Linked DNA regions of Homo sapiens. The protein of the gene in region 3 purifies or fractionates together with the protein of the main gene of each other region. This does not show direct contact. Each region holds a gene or a part of one and is shown on either strand. Other genes may lie near its edges.

The links.
Region 1: the proteins of CALR3 (region 3) and FREM2 purify together in Homo sapiens (affinity purification with mass spectrometry, with the first as the bait; one large-scale study listed by BioGRID). This does not show direct contact.
Region 2: the proteins of CALR3 (region 3) and PNPT1 purify together in Homo sapiens (affinity purification with mass spectrometry; one large-scale study listed by BioGRID and IntAct). This does not show direct contact.
Region 4: the proteins of CALR3 (region 3) and RAB6B purify together in Homo sapiens (affinity purification with mass spectrometry; one large-scale study listed by BioGRID and IntAct). This does not show direct contact.

Annotation. Positions count from the first base shown.
Region 1 is NC_000013.11:38,871,611-38,876,707, reverse strand, and holds part of FREM2 (FRAS1-related extracellular matrix protein 2 precursor), read right to left. Parts: intron 3,967-5,097; coding exon 3,774-3,966; intron 2,227-3,773; coding exon 2,122-2,226; intron 687-2,121; coding exon 559-686; intron 461-558; coding exon 326-460; intron 1-325. UniProt on the Homo sapiens protein: Extracellular matrix protein required for maintenance of the integrity of the skin epithelium and for maintenance of renal epithelia. Required for epidermal adhesion. Involved in the development of eyelids and the anterior segment of the eyeballs.
Region 2 is NC_000002.12:55,683,080-55,688,176, forward strand, and holds part of PNPT1 (polyribonucleotide nucleotidyltransferase 1, mitochondrial precursor), read right to left. Parts: intron 4,627-5,097; coding exon 4,566-4,626; intron 3,366-4,565; coding exon 3,291-3,365; intron 1,970-3,290; coding exon 1,864-1,969; intron 756-1,863; coding exon 706-755; intron 1-705. UniProt on the Homo sapiens protein: RNA-binding protein implicated in numerous RNA metabolic processes. Catalyzes the phosphorolysis of single-stranded polyribonucleotides processively in the 3'-to-5' direction. Mitochondrial intermembrane factor with RNA-processing exoribonulease activity.
Region 3 is NC_000019.10:16,481,913-16,487,009, forward strand, and holds part of CALR3 (calreticulin-3 precursor), read right to left. Parts: intron 3,346-5,097; coding exon 3,251-3,345; intron 2,204-3,250; coding exon 2,018-2,203; intron 874-2,017; coding exon 766-873; intron 670-765; coding exon 538-669; intron 1-537. UniProt on the Homo sapiens protein: During spermatogenesis, may act as a lectin-independent chaperone for specific client proteins such as ADAM3. Required for sperm fertility. CALR3 capacity for calcium-binding may be absent or much lower than that of CALR.
Region 4 is NC_000003.12:133,884,924-133,890,020, reverse strand, and holds part of RAB6B (ras-related protein Rab-6B), read left to right. Parts: intron 1-4,355; exon of another isoform or gene 4,356-4,455; coding exon of another isoform or gene 4,456-4,486; intron 4,487-5,097. UniProt on the Homo sapiens protein: The small GTPases Rab are key regulators of intracellular membrane trafficking, from the formation of transport vesicles to their fusion with membranes. Rabs cycle between active GTP-bound and inactive GDP-bound states.

The DNA.
Region 1 (5,097 bases), on a different chromosome or scaffold from region 3:
CAAGAAAAGAAATGCAGAAGTGCGGGGAAAATTCTCAAATCTCCAAGACAGCAAACTTCAGGAGGACACAAGATAAGATCAGATAAGAAAAAAATAACCATTGCATACATTTAAACTCTGAATTTTACATCCTGTACTAACAACAGATAAAGGGCAAATCTCTCCTCATTCTTTTATCCCTAGCTTCCTTAACTGTCTGATTTCTTTTCTTTTCAGCATGCAAGAATTAAAGTCATTCACGTGTGGATTTTTTTTTTTTTTACTAATAAATGAAAAACAAAGTGGGATTCTGCAAGTCATAAGATAGTAATTCTATAAGCCACACCTGTTGGAATCGGATGTCAAGGTCAAAGGTGACAGGTTCTCTGGGGTTGCAGGTGACTGGCAGGCGGTATTCCTGATGTGATGGGGCAGTGCATGGCACCAGCTTCACAGTATAGGTCCCTGAGTAGTCACGTACCTTTGAGGAGAAGATATTGATATATTACATTTAAAAATCTGAGGTGTAATCAGATGGCAGCAGCAGAAGAAAATTAATTAAGAGTCTTAGTCACTTACGGCAAAGTCAGAGACAAAGCTCCACTGCTGTACTGGCTGGTTATAGGTTGGTTCACTCCTTATGAGGCGGAGGGAAAATGTCAGGCCTGGATGATCAGCTGACATGATCACTGAGCTTGTAAAGGATGCTAGGAAAGTGCCAGTAATTATAATAATGATATAGTGGTTCAATTAAAAGAGTGCATAACAGTTTAGAGTTTTCAAAATAAATGATCATACATTATTTGCTTCTGTTTTTATAAGAAGGCTGCAAAGCAGTCATGGTTAGTATAATTATCCTCCTCTGGCAGATGAAGAAACTGGGCTGTGAGTGACTGTGTGACTTTCCAAAGATCACACAGCTAGGATGTGACTTTCTGATTCCTACTTCAGTACTGTTTCTGCTCTATAGTTTTGTCAAAAGATAATTGTACAGAAATGCTCAAATTGTTCAGAGCTACTTTCTGGGGAGTCACAGCAGCACAATAAAGGGTGATGTGAATGCATTTATTGTGCACTGAAGTTACGAGCTGAACTTAAAATAGTCTATTAGTATCCACACAGCTGGGCAAACCCAATTTATGAATGGAGTCTGATTTTAGTTAGATTGCCTGCAATCATGGCTACACAAAGATTCAGTTTATTAGAAAGGTAGGCATGTAGAAGAAAACTGTATAGACCAGAAAATCCTCATTTTCCAGAACTGTCAAATACAATAAAGCAAAATGATTTTTTTGGGTTCTTTCTTTCTTGTAGCTCAGTTCCATAAAAATACAATGAAGCCTCTTTCTCTTCCTAATTATTCAGCCCTATTCTCTTTTGTTAGAGTTCAAGTCCAGAAAAAGAAAAGCTATAAAGATGTTGAGTGAACTATTTTCCCTTTCCCAATCTAATATAAGCTGGCAGAAAAATGGCTTATTTTTTATTTGACTCTCCATGTTACTAAACTGGTAATATGGAGAGTCAAATAAAAAATAAGCTCTTTCTAGTGAAATGTCCTTGTTAAAAAAAAACAAAAAACAAATGAAGTTAGACGTGGGATTTTATCGACTGCTGCCTTGTTGATATTCAAAGCACAGCGAATCACAGTTAGTAAAATTGCATAGCCAATACTTATTAAACATAATTAACATGTCCAAAACTTAAATATGAAAGTGAAGTACCTCCTCTGACCCTATTAAAAGGGTTTCTCACAGTACCTAGCAAAAAGCTGTGAAAAGAGAAGTGCTTGCTGAATGAATCATCTGCAATTCGATTTGTACAATGGAAGCAAAGCAGAGAAAGAAATGATTATTCCTATGCTCTTTAAGGAAAACTTTACTTAAAATGAACTCAATAGGGTTTCCTTTTAATTTTACTCTAATTATTTTGCATTTTCTCTGAAAGTCTGCATAATGATAATTTTGTGGATTATGAGGTGAAGCTGAACAATTATCAAGCTCTCATGGAGATAATCCCACATGTACAATTCATTTGAGATTAAGGGCTTCAGTGGTAACAGAGAAGCACGCTGAAATGTGTGAAGATGGAAAATCTACCTCCTTTTTGTGTGAGGAGTGGTTGTTAAAAGATAACGGGGCTTACCGGGATGTGACAGCACAAATAAGCCATGGAACTGAGCCTCTGTCTTGAAGTGCACGGCCAAGCGCCCCTCATCACCGATGCGCATGCTGGTTGGATAGAGAGAACCTATAATGGGGAGAGTACCAAGAATGAAAATATATGTAGCCAGAGACCCCTTATGTACAGATTCCTTCCAAAAATTAATTCAGGTTTGACTTGTCTTTAAACATTCTGGGCAAAGGGTATTATCAGAAGAATTCTGAATAACAGAGGCAGAAGTATCTTCATTTTCTTTTCTAAGCAGAAAAGGGAGCCAAAATGAATTATTAAGTAACATGAGTGAAGTCACTATGAAATACACAGATTACTTACAATAGACCAAGTTTTTTTAAAATCTGAGTTTATAAAAATGAAGCTGTAAATTGAGAGGCATGACAAAATTGTCAAAATGATGGAGATTCGGACATGTAAATAGAAATAGGTTTGAGTTATCCAGAATTATTCCTAATTTTATAGACTTAAAGAAACCTCTGAAGCTTTCCCAAGAAATTTAGCAGTTTGATAAAATTTGGCTCCAGAAATCAGATGGAAACAAGAGATCCTATGTGGAGGTTGGGAACCACAGAAAAATCCTCATTAAGATTAACTTAAATATACATCTTCTAAAACAAGACACGGACTTAAAACATTTGAAATAATTTGGAATCATAACTCAGGGTTATCATATTACCTGTCACATAGCTCTAAAATAGAAACTATTCAAAATGAAACATGGAGAAAAAAAGACAACAACAAAATGAACAGAGCATAAATAGGTTTTAATCCACTTAAGAGAGTAGATTTACATTTGAGGTGCACTATTAACTCTGTTTTCCTGCTGGCTAGTAAAATGCAGTACTGGCATGACACTATGGATGTTTGTGGAATCGGAACAGTAATACATGTCTGAAAAAGAAAAAGCACTCGTCCTACTAATGGATTAGATTGATGCTTGTGGACTTTGAACTATGAGTCTAACATGGAGATTGAAACCAAGTTTTGCAAATGCTCGCGAACTCGAACTAGTGGCATTCACAATCCGAGTTCGCAGACATTCAACTAAAGTACCCCAGAGTAATAGAATTTTACATCAGAAAGAGATATTAGAAGTTGTGTCTATCATTCAGAAAAAGTTAAGTCCCAGAAAGGTTAAGCAATATGCTTGAGATCTCACAGCTAGTTAGTTGTAGAGTCATGACTAGAATTCAGGCCATAATTTGTATTTAATTTAAATGCACCTCTTTTTTTCAGAAATAAAAATGTGTAACTTTTTCCCTTGGTCATTTCTTGCTTTCGTTGGAGCTTCCTCTATCCATTTTCTAGAATTCAGAAAAATATATATGTTGTGTTATGTAACACATAAATAATTAATCACCTAAAATAGATCGCAAGGATAAAATATCCATGAAATATATAAAGTCATATTTAATAATCACATATTGCACAAAATTTAAAGCCCTAATATGGTTTAAAGAGTTTTTTGATGAAAAAGGTGAAATTATCTTATTATAGATAGAAAATGAAAATATACTGAAATTTGCTAGTACTACTTTTAGCAATGGCAAAAAAAAATCGTCTTAAATAGTTTAAATAGGTTACAAAACTATAGAATTTTCCAAGTCTTCTGAACTCACCTTGAAGTTCAGCCTCTGGGGGGCTGCCAATTCCATCATTCCACAAGATGGCGGTGTCGTACACAAAAGTTAGACGAAGCTCTGACTTCAAGTCAAAATGCTGCCAGCCTCCTACCCCCACGGGGGAATGGAACACGTAGGAAACATACAGAGGGACTCGAAGGGTCACATAGGACTGCACTAGGTTTAGGACCTAAAACAACAAAATTACATCAATCAACATGACTCAGTGTTAACTAAGTGGGCCTAATTTTGTACAAGCCATTTTCTCTTTTCGCTTAACTGAAGATTTTGAGTAATCATTGAGAAGAGGAAATGACAGCATTTTATAACACTATTTTCCCCTCACTTAATTTTGGATCGATTAAATAGTTGTTACTAATTACCTTCATTGGCAACAAAGGATATGTACCAGAAATCCTTAAGACAGTGCATTATTTTGAGCATACTATACTTACAAAATCCTCTTTAGAGCAGTTTTATGAAGATAGTTTACATACCATGTAATTCACCTATTTAAAGTAAACAGTTCAATGGTTCTTAGTATATTTAAGGAGCTGTGCAACCAACACAATCAATTTTAGAAGATTTTCATCACCTCCAAAAGGAAGCCTGTACTTATTAGCAGTCACCCCCAATCCCTCCTCCCCGTCAGTCCCTGGAAACCACTAGGTCTTTATGTATTTGTCTATCCTGGACATTTCATATAAATGGAATCATACAAAATGTGTTTTTTTGTGATAGATTTCTTTCATTTAGCATAATGTTTTCAAGGTGCATCCATGTTTGAGCACGTTTCAATACTTAATTCCCCTGTTAATGAATTGCAGCCCATTGTATGCACATATTACATTTCATTTATCTATTTATCACTTCATGGCCATTTGGGTTGTTTCCAGTTTTTGGCTATTATAAAAAATGCTGCTATGAGCTACTTTTTTATTAAGGGAATATGAAACATAGATCTGGAAGCAAATATATTTACTAATAACATATAACATTTATAATATCTCAAGAATAATTAGTTGAAATGAAGTGTCTTGCCTTGAATTTTATACTTTCCTCCTTCTGGTGTTTAGCAGATGGGTTGGGAATAGTGGAGGATAAACTAATATTTATATATTGAGTACTTACCATATTTCAGAAACTGTACTAGTTTCTGAATAAACACTATTTAATATTTTCACTCTCCACCATAATTATTTTGCATGTATGGATGGATAGTTGGATGGTCAATGGATGACGGATAGAAAGAGACAAAGATAAAATTAAGACTCAAAGGAAAAAGGTAAATGTCCCACAGTATTCTCTAAACCTCCTGAAT
Region 2 (5,097 bases), on a different chromosome or scaffold from region 3:
AGAGGTTCAGAGGATCCAGCAATAAAATTAGGTAATAAAAATTAGTTACGTTAGTTGTCCTATTCCCAGCCTGATTTGGTCTCCACTCACTGTAGTCACGCTGATCTTCTTTTTAAACTCATTAATTTCTTTCCTGCCTCTGGGCTTTCAATGCTTCCCTGACACACCTTGGTTGGCTAACTCCTACTGAAATTCAGGTGTCAACTCAAACAGACACTGAATAAATGTTAGCTTTTTAAAAGCACTATCTTTTGGCCAGGCACAGTGGCTCACGCCTGTAATCCTAGCACTTTGGGAGGCCGAGGGGGGCGGATCACAAGGTCAGGAGTTCAAGACCAGCCTGACCAACATGGTGAAAACTGGTCTCTATTAAAAATACAAAAATTAGTCGGGCATGGTGGTGCGTGCCTGTAATCCCAGCTACTCAGGAGGCTGAGGCAGGAGAATCACTTGAACCTGGGAGATTGAGGTTGCAGTGAGCTGAGATCGTGCCATTGCACTCCAGCCTGGGCGACAAAGTGAGACTCTGTCTCAAAAAAAAAAAAAAAAAAAGTACTATCTTTTTTCAAAAACGTAATGTAAAATATAACAGTATCATAAAAAATTCTTATGTTCTTTATAATGTTTACTCTAGGAAATATTACAGAGATTCATTAAGTAATTTTTGATTGATCTGGCAACTAAAAAACCTAAAGCAGAATCTACCTGTGTATCATAGAAGTAGCCAGCTGGAAAGAGCGGTCTAATTGAACGATCTGCCAAAAGAAAAAAAAACACATTAAACCGTACTGACAGAGTTGCTTTACAGTTCAAAACGTTTGAACTAATATAGATAGCCATTCAATATGTTTTCAAGAAAAATCCCCTTGGACTGATTTACTAAGAGGGACACAGATAAATGTCAGTGCTTCCATTATTACATACCATGCCCTAACAACAAAAAACAAACACAGAAGAAGCACATTAACAATAAAGATTGGGGAGCAATTTTTCATTCTGGTTCCACAGGCAACAGTTACATATATAAGCAGAGCAAAGAGACTTAAGACCAATAGCAGACCAAAAGAAAATGCTTCCTTGCTACTTTGTGTCTGAAGACTGTATATAAATATACATAAAATAGCAATTTCTGGCCGAGCACAGTGGTTCACGCCTGCAATCCCAGCACTTGGGAGGCTGAGGCGGGTGGATCACGAGGTCAGGAGTTCAAGACCAGCCTGACCAAAATGGAGAAACCCCATCTTGACTAAAAATACAAAAATCAGCCAGGCATGGTGGTGGGCACCTGTAATCCCAATCACTTGAACCCGGGAGGTAGAGGTTGCAGTGAGCCGAGATCGTGCCACTGCACTCCAGCCTGGGTGACAGAGCAAGACTCTGTCTCAAAAAAAAGCAATTTCTGGGTAGAAGAGCTATAAATTACATATGATCCCACAATATGTAGGGATGTTAAAGATTTGAAAGATTATGGACATATTTCAGTAGCTGATGAACATAATGTTTAGGAATTACTATTCTGAACATGAAAAAATGTACTAGGAATAGATTCAACAAAGTAGAGGCATGGGCCAAAAAATTCATATGCTCAATAGAGATTTACTCATTTAGTCAACAAATATTTATTGAATGCCTATTCTGTGCTAAGCAGTATAACAGGTACTAGGGATTCAACCCTGAAGAAATAAAAGTTTTTTCTTTCACAGTGCCCACATTTGAGTGAGGGAAGAGAAGGAGTGAATAATCTTAGGTGGTGTTAATGCTATGAAGGAAAACTTAAGACTTATTGTAGAACACAGATGCAAGAGAAGAGATGCTAACATAGGCATACCAGAGAAGATGAACGCCTCTATGTTAATATCTTACCTATTATTCGACTTGTTAGAATTTCTTTATCAGAAGTACCAATCTCTCTTCTCAGATAGTTTGTGGGAATTCTACCTGCTGCAGCAGCTTTTTGTCTGTAGTCAACCTGAAGCAGCAATAAAAAAAAGTTCATATAATTCTTTTTGCAGAAACAAACTATACTGTATGAATGCTAATTCTCCTGAGGTTGCTAACAACACAGTCTAGACTCAGAGTAGAAAATGTTATTTACTTAGCATTTTGTATCTTTTGGGGAGAGGAAAGTTGATAGAAATGTTTCTGCAAAGTGATTTTAAAAAACGTTCAGGTGCAGTGGCTCACGCCTGTAATCCCAGCACTTTGGGAGGCCAAAGCAGGAGGACCACTTGAGGCCAGGGTTTTAGAACTGCCTGGGTAACACAGAAAGACCTTGTCTCTACCCCCAACAAAAAAAAAATTAGTTGGGCACAATGGCCTGTGCCCATAGTCCTAGCTACTCAGAAGGCTGAGGTGGGAGGATTGCTTAAGCCCAGGAGTTTGAGGCTGCAGTGAACTATGATCACACCACTGAACAACTCTAGCCTGGGTGACAGAGCAAGACCCTGTCTCTTAAAAAAAAAAAAGTCTTCTACTCAACAGTAAAAGTGGAAGAAGACTCACTATTTGCCACAGATGCTCATTCTGATCAAGTCAAACATTGCTTTTTTTTGGTATCAACTCTGTTAAATATAATTGTACACCCCTTTTCATAATAGAAGGGAGCTATAAAATTCTCATGAGCTCATTACTAAATATACACAGTTGTCTCTTGGTATCCCTGGGGGATTGGTTCTAGGACCTCTTGCAGATATCAAAATCCATGGATGCTCAAATCCTTGATGTAAAACACCATAGTATTTGTTTATAACTTACGTATATCCTCTCATATACTTTAAATCATCTCTAGATTACATATAATCCTTAATACAATGTAAATTCTACATAAATAGTTTTTATACCGTATTGCGTAGGGAATGACAAGAAAAAAAGTCTGTACATATTCAGTACAGATGCAATTTTTCCCCCAATATTTTCGATCCATGGTTGGTTGAATCCATGGATGCAAAACCCAAGGACATGGAGGGCTGACTGTACTTGCAGAGTCATACTGAAGGGAAACTATGAGGGCAATGAATTCATTGCTTATTCAATGTCAAAGTACTCATGCACTTCCAATCTTCTTGTCAACTTACGCACCTGGACGTTCCAAATTCTAAAGTATGCTTAATCCTAGTATTTGTTTATGAAGCAGTTTATACTCTTTTAATGAATCAGTATCAAAAAACTAGGAAAAATTCTTTGTTGTGCAAGTTTGTATTTTCCACTCACTAGACACTGGACAAAAATATTATACATTCTACACTTTACTCAGACCATATTACAGTTCAGATAAATCAGCAAATACTTACCACCAAAGGCATAAACTGGGAAGGGGAAGGTTTTGTTTTACTGACCGCTGTGACCATTACTGCAGTGTCACCTGACTTAAACATAAAGAACAACGCTGGTAAGTTCCTTTGAAATCAGATATTAGCATCTAAGTAGCAACTGAATAAATCCTTACTCCAATTAAACTCAAGAAAAGATATCTAATTCTACGACACGATTATGAAATAAAAAATATTCACAAGTAGTCCAATCTTGATCTCTGAGCTTTTCAAAAGCTATGGAATCAAAATAAGGAAAGATTAACAGGTAATTTAGTCATATTCAATGAATTGAATAGTATTCTCTACTTCTTATGTGGCTATACATAAGGAAAAATTCCCCAATTATTACTATAGAAGAAAATACCAAAATCACTTTCTCTAGAAAAGCACAACAGAATTTATTAACGCATAAAACAGAAGCCCAAGTTTGGAAAGGATGTTAAACGTCACTTAATACGGCTGGGCACGGTCGCTCACACTTGTAATTGCAGCACTTTGCGGGGGCAAGGCAGGTGGATCACGAGGTCAAGAGATTGAGACCAGGCCAGGCGCGGTGGCTCACGTCTGTAATCCCAGCACTTTGGGAGGCTGAGGCAGGCGGATCACGAGGTCAGGAGATCAACACCATCCTGGCTAACACGGTGAAACCTCGACTCTACTAAAAATACAAAAAATTAGCTGGGCGTGGTGGCAGGTGCCTGTGGTCCCAGCTACTAAGGAGGCTGAGGCAGGAGAATGGCGTGAACCTGGGAGGCGGAGGTTGCAGTGAACCGAGATCGCGCCGCTGCACTCCAGCCTGGGCAACAGAGTGAGACTCCATCTCAAAAAAAAAAAAAAAAAAGAGATCGAGACCATCCTGGCCAACATGGTGAAACCCCGTCTCTACTAAAAATACAAAAATTAGCTGGGTGTGGTGGTGCACGCCTGTAGTCCCAGCTACTCGGGAGGCTGAGGCAAAAGAATCGCTTGAACCCAGGAGGCAGAGGTTGCAGTGTGCCAAAATCGCACCACTGCACTCCGGCCTGGAGATGGAGCAAGAGTCCACCTCAAAAAAAAAAATAGGTCACTTAATACATGCAGTGCTCTGGACTCTGGTTGTCTGGAATGATTCTTGCAGTAGAAATTATCTTAGTAGTATCTGAATTAATTTCCAGTACCAAAATTCTAAGTAGTTACACGATGTTGTAGTTACACATTTAGTATGAGTCTCCGTAACCATTTTTAAGATGAATTTTAAAAATCTGGACTTTTTACCTGTACTACAGCAGAGCCATCTGCAAATCTGGCCAGCTTTCCAGAAGATATTTCTAATTTCCTGTTTAAAAATAAAAATGCAATACAAGAAGACTTAGGTCATCTGTACAATTCCTGCTTAGTATAAAATAATAAAAGATTCTAAGGGAAGATTCTAACCCCCAACCCACCCACTCCACCAACAAAAAGGGGCAGAATCCATGATCATTATCAAAAGTAAAAGTGGAATTTAAGAGTGGCTTAAAGAAGAATACGGAAACCAAGGCACAGGATTGATCTGAACAGGAAAGTCTTTTGGAGGTTCAGAAGTTAACTGCTTCCCTAAATGTTAATTCCCATGTACCATCTATTTTTTTTTTGAGGTGGGGGGTGGTCTTTGTGCCTTGTATCTTCTTTTTCTTTTCTTTTTTTTTTTTTGAGACAGGGTCTTGCTCTGTTGCCCAGGCTGGAATGCAGTGGCACAATTACAGCTCACTGCAACCTAGAACACCTAGGCTCAAGCGATCCTCCAACTCAGCTTCCTGAGTAGTTG
Region 3 (5,097 bases):
TTTTTTTTTTTTGAGACGGAGTCTTGCTCTGTCACCCAGACTGGAGTGCAGTGGCCCGATCTCAGCTCACTGCAAGCTCTGCCTCCCGGGTTCACGCCATTCTCCTGCCTCAGCGTCCCGAGTAGCTGGGACTACAGGCGCCCGCCACCACGCCCGGCTAATTTTTTTTGTATTTTTAGTAGAGACGGGGTTTCACCATGTTAGCCAGGATGGTCTCGATCTCCTGACCTTGTGATCCACCCGCCTCAGCCTCCCAAAGTGCTGGGATTACAGGAGTGAGCCACCGCGCACAGCCTAGACTCCCATTTCTTAAAAAAAAAAAATCTGGATGTGGTGGCTTGTGCCTGTAGTCCTAGCTACTTGGGAGGCTGAGGTGGGAGGATCGCTTGGGCCTAGTTTGAGGCTACAGTGAGCTAGGATGGTGCCACTGCACTCCAGCCTAGGTGACAGAATGAGACCCTGTCTCAACAAAACAAAACAAAACAAAACAAAACACACACACGCAAAAAATCTAAAGTAAAGTTAAAACCAAATGACCTGCCAAAGCTCCAGGCCAATGGCACCAATGTTCTCAAATTCTGAGAGGTCATACTGCGTCAAATAGTCGGTATTCTTCATCTTACGGTGGAGCCAGACGTCTTTATGAATACCTTCTGGTTTCAGGCCATCCTGTATCAAAAAAACCATATGGGGTGGTCTCAATGACATGGGCAGCGGAGGGGCAGCCCTGGGGCATCCCTGGCATCATACAAAGAGGCCACACACCTGGTACGGGGGCTTCTGGAGCATCGGCGCTGGCCAGTCCCCATCCAGGTCACCGTTCCAGTCGCTCTGCTTGCTGGTGCTGGCGTCCAGAAAATGCTTCTCCCAGTCCTTCAAAGACATGTAAGGAAAAAGTAAAATCAGTCAGATGCTCATATATTTGTTGTTGTTGCTTCTGTTTTTGTTTCTTGAGACTAGGTTTTGCTCTCACCCAGGCTGGAGTGCGGTTGTGCAATCATGGCTCACTGCAGCCTCAACCTCTTGGGCTCCAGTGATCCTCCTGCCTCAGCCTCCCAAGTAGCTCGGACTACAGGCGCCCGCCATCATACCTGGCTACTATTTTTATGTTTTGTACAGTCAGGGTCTCCCTCTGTTGCCCAGGCTGGTCTCGAACTCCTGGGTTCAAGCGATCCTCCTGCCTTGACCTCTGGAAGTGCTGGTATTACAGGCATTAGCCACCACACCCAGCCAGATGCTCAGATTTGAGAAAGGAAATTATTAGATGCCAAGTGGCAGGCACAGGCTGGTGACCCCTGTCCCAGTGTCCCTCTCCCTTCTTCAGTTTGGTGGTCAGGAGGCCAAGTGCTTGGTGCTTCCAATCCCACTGAGGACTTCAGGGCAACACCACACTGCCTAGATTTTTCTCCCTAACCTGCCATATGACTTTAGCCCTTTCCTGCATGCTATGGAGAGGAGCAGCGGTGTGGAAACCTCAAGTAGTGGCTAGAGTGAAAAATGATGGTGCAAAAAGTGATGGTGATGGCCAGATGTGGTGGCTCACACCTGTAATCCCAGCACTTTGGGAGGCCAAGGCAGGCAAATCACTTGAGGTCGGGAGTTCGAGACTAGCCTGGCCAACATGGTGAAACCCCATCTCTACTAAAAATACAAAAATTAGCCAGGGATGGTGGCGGGTGCCTGTAATCCCAGGTATTCGGGAGGCTGAGGCAGGAGAATCACTTGAACCTGGGAGGCGGAGGTTGCCGTGAGCTGAGATCACGCCACTGCACTCCAGCCTGGGCAAGAAGAACGAAACTCTGTCTCAAAAAATAAATAAATAAGTAAATAAATAAATGTTTTACGATACCTTCAGATGTGTAGAGATGTGGCTGGTCTGCAGTGTGTGCTCTGGGGAGGGCATTTGGTTCTATAATATTGCCATCGTGGCTACCAGCCATGCAGCAATTGTCCAGTAACTGGGTACTTACAAACTACATTTGTGCACTTTTTAGAGTTGCCCAGGAAAAATTCACACCTGGGCTTTGTTGTCTTTAGTCTGTTCCCAATCCTTCGATTCTGCCGGGGACGTTTCCTTCTTGAGTGATGTTAAGTTCCAGTCGTACTCTATGCTGCCGGATTCAATTGACTGACCATCAATTTTCACATCATAAGAAAGATCTGGTCTTAAAATTAGAGTGTACAGGTGTGTGAAGCCATCAACCTGCATATTTTAGGGGGAAAAGCGTAACAATTAAATCCTCAATTTCTTTTTTCTTTTCTTTTCTTTTTTTTTTTTTTTTTGAGATGGAGTCTCACTCTGTCGCCCAGGTTGGAGCGCTGTGGCACAATCTCGGCTCACTACAACCTCCACCTCCTGAGTTCAAGCGATTCTACTGCCTCAGCCTCCTGAGAAGCTGGGATTACAGGCACCTGCCACCATGCCTGGGTAATTTTTTGTGTCTAGTAGAGACAGAGTTTCACCATGTTGACCAGGCTGGTCTCGAACTCCTGACCTCAGGTGATCCACCTGCCTCAGCCTCCCAAAGTGCTGGGATTACAGGCATGAGCCACCACGCCCGGCCAACTCTCGATGTTTTAATGCAAGTCTAAATATGCAGTTTATTTTTATTTTTATTTTTTTGAGACAGGGTCTTGCTCTGTCACCCAGGCTGGAGTGCAGTGGTGCAATCAGAGCTCACTACAACCTTGACCTCCCAGGCTCAAGTGACCCTCCCACCTCAGCCTCCCCAGTAGCTGGGACCACAGGTTCCTGGCACTACACCTGGCTAATTTTTGTATTTTTTGTCATGACAAGATTTCGCCATGTTGCCCAGGCTGGTCTTGAACTCCTTGGCTCAAGCAGTCCTCCTGCCTCAGCTTCCCAAACTGCTGGGATTACAGGTGTGAGCCACTGCACCCAGACATTTCTCCAGAATGTTTTTTTCATCCTGAATATTTCATTCATTAATGAGGATGGATGTGGCTGAAATGTGACTGTACTATTGTAACCCTCATAGGGCAAATGATGACATGTCATAGCTCACAGTAAAAAATGAGAGTGCCCTCCTGATGGGGTAAAAACTTCAGGAAACCAGTTAAAGGAGAGAAGTATCTCCAATGGGCCCCCTAAACTGGAAACTGGAAACAGGAGGTATGTCTACAAAGACCCATCCCTGGCTCAGTTAAGTATTTTATTATCAAAACTATTTTTTCTAAACTTAGTCTGGCAGGAGTTAACACTCATTTATTTGAATACAAGAGCAGTTACCTTACACCTGATCAGTTTCTTGTTTTCGTGATACTTATTCTTGAAATGTAAAATAACATGAACTTTCTTGATATCAAATCCACAAATATCGGGTCCTACAAAAAAGATTAGCTGCTCTCAATTTCTTTCCATAATGCATCACCGTAGAATAACCAACCCACAACCATTCTTTTTTTTTTTTTGAGACGGAGTCTTGCTGTCACCCAGGCTGGAGTGCAGTGATCTTGGCTCACGGAAACTTCTGCCTCTTGGGTTCAAGCAATTCTCCTGCCTCAGCCTCCTGAGTAGCTGGGACTACAGGCGCATGCCACGATGCCCAGCTAATTTTTGTATTTTTAGTAGAGATGGGGTTTCACCATGCTGGCCAGGCTGGTCTCAAACTCCTGACCTTGTGATCCACCTGCCTCGGCCTCCCAAAGTCCTAGGATTACAGGCTTGAAACACCACGTGCAGTCCATTCTTCTTACATATAATCAGATATTCACACTAAGATATTTATTTATTTATTTGAGACAGAGTCTCACTCTGTCGCCCAGGCTGGAGTGCAGTGGTGGGATCTTGGCTCACTGCAGTCTCCGCCTCCCGGGTTTAAGTGATTCTCCTGCATCAACCTCCCGAGTAGAATAGCTGTGATTACAGGCATGTACCACCAGGCCCAGCTAATTTTTGTGTTTTTAGTAGAGACAGGTTTTGCCATGTTGGCTAGGCTGGTCTCAAACTCCTGACCTCAAGTGATTTGCCTGCCTTGGCCTCCCAAAGTGCTGAGATTATAGGTGTGAGCCACTGCATCTGGTCACATGTGTGAATATCTTATTATTGTTGTTAAAGGACAATGTCCTGGCTTTCCACTCACTTTTGAGTGTGTTCTGAAGCTTATTTAAATATTCAAAGTGGCCTGCTAATCCCAGCACTTTAGGAGGCCAAGGTGGGGAGATGACTTGAGGCCAGTTTGAGACCAGCCTGGCCAACATGGTAAAACCCCGTGTGTACTAAAAATACAAAAATTAGCTGGGAGTGGTGGCGTGTCCCTGTAGTCCCAGGGACCTGTGAGGCTGAGGTGAGGGGATCACTTGAACCCAGGAAGTGGAGGTTGCAGTGAGCTGAGATCGGGCCACTGTACTCCAGCCTGGGTGACCAAGCGAGACTCCGTCTCAATTAAAAAAAAAAAAAAAGTGTGGGCTGGGCATGGTGGCTCACGGCTGTAATCCCAGAACTTTGGGGGGCTGAGGCGGGTGAATCACGAGGTCAGGAGTTCGAGACCAGCCTGACTAACATGGTGAAACCCCACCTCTACTAAAAATACAAAAATTAGCCAGCCATGGTGGCACACGCCTGTAATCCCAGCTATTGGGGAGGCTGAGGCAGGAGAATGGCTTGAACCTGGGAGGCGGAGGTTGCAATGAGCCGAGATTGCACCATTGCACTCCAGCCTGGGTGACAGAGCAAGATTCTATCTCAAAAAAAAAAAAAAAAAAAGGTATTTACACATGTAATGGATGTTCATGAGGAAATGTAGACAGATGGGCTCTGTGTTGCCTGTCTGAGGTTTTATGCATAACTTATGCATAGGAATTCATGCAAATGTCAAGACTGACAATAACTGTGCTTCCCTTGTCCTCCTCCTTAACCCCTCACCCTCAGCAAGCTCCCCTCACACTAATGGCTGGCGCTGACTCATTGCAACAAAGTGTCCCAATAGTAACAGAGTGGGTTTGAGTAAAATGGAACTGTTGAATTAAAAACTGAAATACTAAGAAAAATTTATTTTAATCTTTTTTTGACCCCAAATTATGCTGCTTGGCAATTCAGATGTAGTAGACACATGCTATATAGGGGTCTTTATTTAT
Region 4 (5,097 bases), on a different chromosome or scaffold from region 3:
ACCTTTGCTTTTTTATTTGTTTAAACAGATGTGTGTGAGTGAGAGAGTCAGACAGACACCAGGATGAGAATTAACCTGTACTTGGTATAAGAGGAAGGTGGCACCTTTAATCTGATGATGCATAGCAAGAGAACTTGCCAGCAAAGAAAAAAGAAACTTAGAATATGTTCTGGCTGCGTAGATGTAATAATAATTACTGTCTTTTGCATGATCTGATGATCATTATCATTTGCAGCCCCCAGATTATAATGAATCACATTAAATTATAACAAAATAAGGCTGGGCGTGGTGGCTTACGCCTGTAATCCCAGCACTTTGGGAGACCAAGGTGGCAAGGTGGGTAGATCACTTGAGGTCAGGAGTTCGAGACCAGCCTGGCCAACGTGGCAAAATCCTGTCTCTACTAAGAAGTACAAACATTAGCCAGGCATGGTGGCGCATGCCTATAATCCCAGCTACTTGGGAACCTGAGGCAGGAGAATCGCTTGAACCCGGGAGGCGGAGGTTTCAGTGAGCCGAGATGGCACCACTGCACTCCACCCTGGGCAACAGAGCAAAACTCCATCCCAAAATAAATATATATATATATATATATATATATATATATATATATATATATATATATATATATAACAAAATAACCTTATTGTCCTTTTGTTCCTTATTCTATCCCTAAAATCAGTCTATGACTATCTTTATAGATGTTGCCCCGACATTGCAAACTTTGCAGACTGGCCGGGGCCAGGCCCAAGGGTGGTAACATTTGTATCCCATCCAGGCTGCAGATTTCCCCTGTCCTCCCCACCCAAGTCGTCCATTGTTGCCGAATGCATCGGCCATTGAATGTGTAGGGCTGTCTGGTTTCAGTGTGGTTAACTTTGGGAAATTATTGGACAGAACCACTGGGGAAGGTGACAGAAGGCTAGGTAGAACAGCAGAATTCATAAACATTCAGGGTGGACTACCGGGAAAGCTGATGGGCATTTTCTCTGCGTCTGCCATTCTTTTCCATTTCTCACCACAGGGAAGAGAAGCCGAGGGAGCTCTGGTGGAGGTTGCCAGGGAGAAGTACCAGACACGCCCTGAAATGGACAGCTTTTGTTAGGGTGGAAAGACAGGCTGCCAGGAAATGGGGCTCCAAGCAGGGCCTGGGGACTGGAAGCCCCTGGGAACTTGGAATGCCAGTCCAGTCTTTGTTTCCTAGAACAAGGGAAGGAAAAGATGAAGACTCACAACTCTTAAGGACTCCTAGGATGTTCTTTACCATATCTTGGGGCTTGAGATTTCAAAATTGTTTTCATTATTTTCATAACTTTTGCCCTAAACAAAGTAAGATCTTTTTAAAAAATATTGACTGATATACATAATTTAGCATTTTAATAAAGTGATTTATTTTTTGTAGAAAAACTTATTTATTCTGATCTCTTGGTAACAAGGCCAGAGGGAGCCCAGGTGACCAGATCACATGCTCTGGGCCAGCCATCACCTGTCCCAAGGGGCTGACATACCTAAGGGACAGGCCCAAGTCCTGAGGAGGCAGATGTTACCTCACCCCTGAGGGCAGAATAGAGCTTTCAAAGCAAAGGTTACTTCCAGGAAATGCATAAAAAGAATGGCAGCCTGTGTCCTTCCTCACATGAGTTCACTCACGTGGCATTTATTGAACATCCACTATGCCGGAGGCTCCACACAGGGCACTTTTTATCTTCCCAGCCACCCTGTGACGGATGTGGGATCATCCCTGTTTTGTGGGTCAGGAGGCAGAGGCTCAGAGAGAGCTGGCCCTGCCCAAGGACTCACTGTGAGTGTGGCAGAATTAGAATTCAGACCCAGGTCACTGTGAGAAACACAGTGGACTATCAGACCTCTTGCCTCAAAGGCAGCTTCTGGCCTAGGACTGGAGCGGAGGAGACAGAAGAACACTGAGGTCTTCTGGACACGAGGTCTGCTGTGCATGACTCGTGGGGAGTGTTTGTGCCAAGCTCTTTGCTAAAGAGGAACCTGCGGGGCCCTGAGCAGGGAGGAGGGAAGCAGGGTCTCCGTGTGGGAGCTGCTGGAGCTGGTCTTGCACAGCAGGCACCCTGTTCTTCCATTTGTGGTGCTTTGAAGGGAGTTGATAGAGCCTATGGGGGCAGCTAAATCCCTCCCAAGTCAGCCCTCAGCCCACTGCCATGGTTCTAGCTGAGAACTAATTACTAACCAGGGAAGAACCAATTAAACTAAATGGCTGGTTCCCACCTACTCTGGGGTAACCCTTTCCTGGCCACATCCTCCCTTCTGGCTTGGAGATACCAGGGCCCTGAAGACCCTGATTCTATTCCCGGTCTGTCACTGGCTGGCTGTATGTTGGATAAGCCCCAGCCCATCTCTGGCTTTCTCCGTGTATCCCCTCAAGGCTACTGGGCTGGGTGACCCCTTGGGCCAGTGGAGCTCTAACTCTGGTTCTGCAATTCAGTGCCAGCTCTGAGTATGAGGCCAAGCCAATAACACTCCCAGCCTGGAGACAAGCATGCTGCTGGTGAGAGGGGCTGCAGGAGTGAGATGGGGGATCAGGGGCTCTGCGACTGTTGCCCCCAGAACTGTCCTGGGTCCCACATGCAGGATCTTCTCCAGCCTACCACCTCCTCTCCTGGGAGGCATTCCTGGCCCCCTACACCTGAGTGCAACCCTCCCTGGGGGCACAATGTGGGGGAGGGGCATGCTGGCTCCCTTCTTCTGAAGATGTGCTTGGCTCTGGTTGCCAAGCAACAAGGATGGGGCTATCCTGCACTTCTGCTTCCAGGAGGTGTGTCTTCCACACAGAGAGGAACCATGATTAGGACGACAGGGCAGGTGACACCTCCCAGGTGCTCCTAGCCCAGGGGCACCCCTTTCCACAGCCTGGTGGGAGGGGTAAGCTGGGAGGGCAGGGAAAGGACAGAGCCAAGAGGGGTATATGGTGTCCCCAGCAGACCTAGGAGGGCTTAGAGACCCGGCCCCAGCCCCAGCTCCCACCCCCACCCCATCACCATATTGGTCCTCCTGCATCCTGGGCTTCCACCTCAGCCCACCCCTCTGCTGAATGGATGGTGTTGGTGTGCAATGGCACCACCTGTGCTCATTTTCCTCACCTGTGCAGGAAGTTGATCATTACCTTGTTGGGGTTCCAGGAAGATCAAGTACATCTATACATGGCATGTGATTAAGGCTCACATGATAAAAGCTCAGGTGATAGGTAATTTTGTTAATGAAATAGTAACAGCAATCTCCATCTCCTCCCTCATTGCAGAAGTAGGGTGCGAGATTTTGAGAATCATTGATCATTTCTGTATTGTGAACTGTGGGGTCTACATCCTCGTGATCTGGCAGGAAGAGCTGCTCATCCCATTTTATAAAGAAAGCGAAGGTCTGCCAGGTGAAGGCTTTTACACAGATGGAAGGACCCTTTGACTCCCTGGCCAGTGTTTTCCCCAGCTCCCCATCCCTGCTCAGAGACAGGCTGGCAAAAAGTGGGACAGACTCACCATGCCTGCTCCTCTGGGGCCACCAAACCTGCTCAGGGGAAGAGTACCTCATCTTCACAGCTCCGTTACTTCCTGTAAGGAGCTCAGCCAGGGTGGAGTATAAGGGCAGAGGCTTTGCAGCATTGGGGTTATATGCCTTCAGATGTGTGAGGTCGGTAGTACTTGGCCCACAATAAGCAGGCAACAAATCTCAGCCAGTATTAAGATTAGTATTACATACACAAGCAAGGCTATGGGCGTGATGTGCTTGGAGGAGTCAGGGAAGGCTTTCTGGAGGAGGTTTTGCATAGTGAGCAGGAACTCACCAGCAAAGAAGGGGAGGCACTGAGGGCAGAGGGCCTGACCATGCCCAGGCAGTGAAAGGCTTGGGGTTTCTGGGGAATCGGGTGTGGTTCAGGGTGGTGGGATTCTGGTGCGGGTGGAGAAATAGTGGGGGAGAAGGGGTTGAGCCTGGGGGAGTCAGTAGGGTCAGGCCCTGGAGGACCTCCCTGCAGGCAGTGGGGATCCACTGGGGAGTTTTGACCCAGAGGGACATGCTCATGGATTAGAAGGTGAAGGCAGAATGTGTTCTGATTGGAGGCAGGAGATCCAGGTGGCTGAACTAGGTCAGAACAGAAACGTTCCGAGGATGGAATTTATAGAGAGGGCTTGTAAACTTAAGCTTCCTTCCAGTTCTGAAGCTCAGCTCCACTGCAGATGTATATTTTCTTGATTCTTTCTCTTAGAATGAGGCCTCAGGAACAATGAAGGATTGTAGGGGAGGGACTATTGTCTCTCTCTGCAAGGCCACACTGTACGCAGATGGACCAAAGCTAGCCCCTTTAAGCTCCCCTGTCCATCCTATCTCCACAGTGCCCTGGGTTCCCTGACTGCTCTGGCCTTCCATGGGTGTTCTGCGGGACTGCTGGCAGCCCTTCCGGACTCCTCCCTCTCTGCTACCTGCTCAGGTTGGATGTGGCATATGACCAGAAACTGGCCATTGGGTGTGTGAGCTCCCCTATCCTCTGGTCATTGGATGTGTGAGTCCCCCATCCTCTGGTCATTGGGTGTGTAAGTCCTCTGTCCTCTGGTCACTGGGTATGTGAGTTCCCGTCCTCTGATCATTAGTGTGTGAGCAGCCCATCCTCTGGCCATTGGATGTGTGAGTCCCCCGTCCTCTGGTCATTGGGTGTGTGAGTCCCCCGTCCTCTGGTCATTAGGTGTGTGAGTCCCCTATACTCTGGTCATTGGGTATGTGAGCCCTCCCTCCTCTGGTCATTGGGTGTGTGAGTTCCCGTCCTCTAATCATTAGTGTGCGAGCAGCCCATCCTCTGGCTGTTGGATGTGTGAGCCCCTTGTCCTCTGATCATTGGTGTGTGAGCAGCCCATCCTCTAGCCATTGGATGTGTGAGTTCCCCATCCTCTGGTCATTGGGTGTGTGAGTCCCCCATCCTCTGGTCATTTGGTGTGTGAGTTCCCCATTCTCTGATCATTGGTGTGTGAGCCCCCCATCCTCTGGTTATTGGGATATATGAGCCCCGCCGTCCTCTGGTTATTTGGTGTGTGAGTCCCCCGTCCTCTCATCATTGGTGTGTGAGCCCCCCATCCTCTGGTT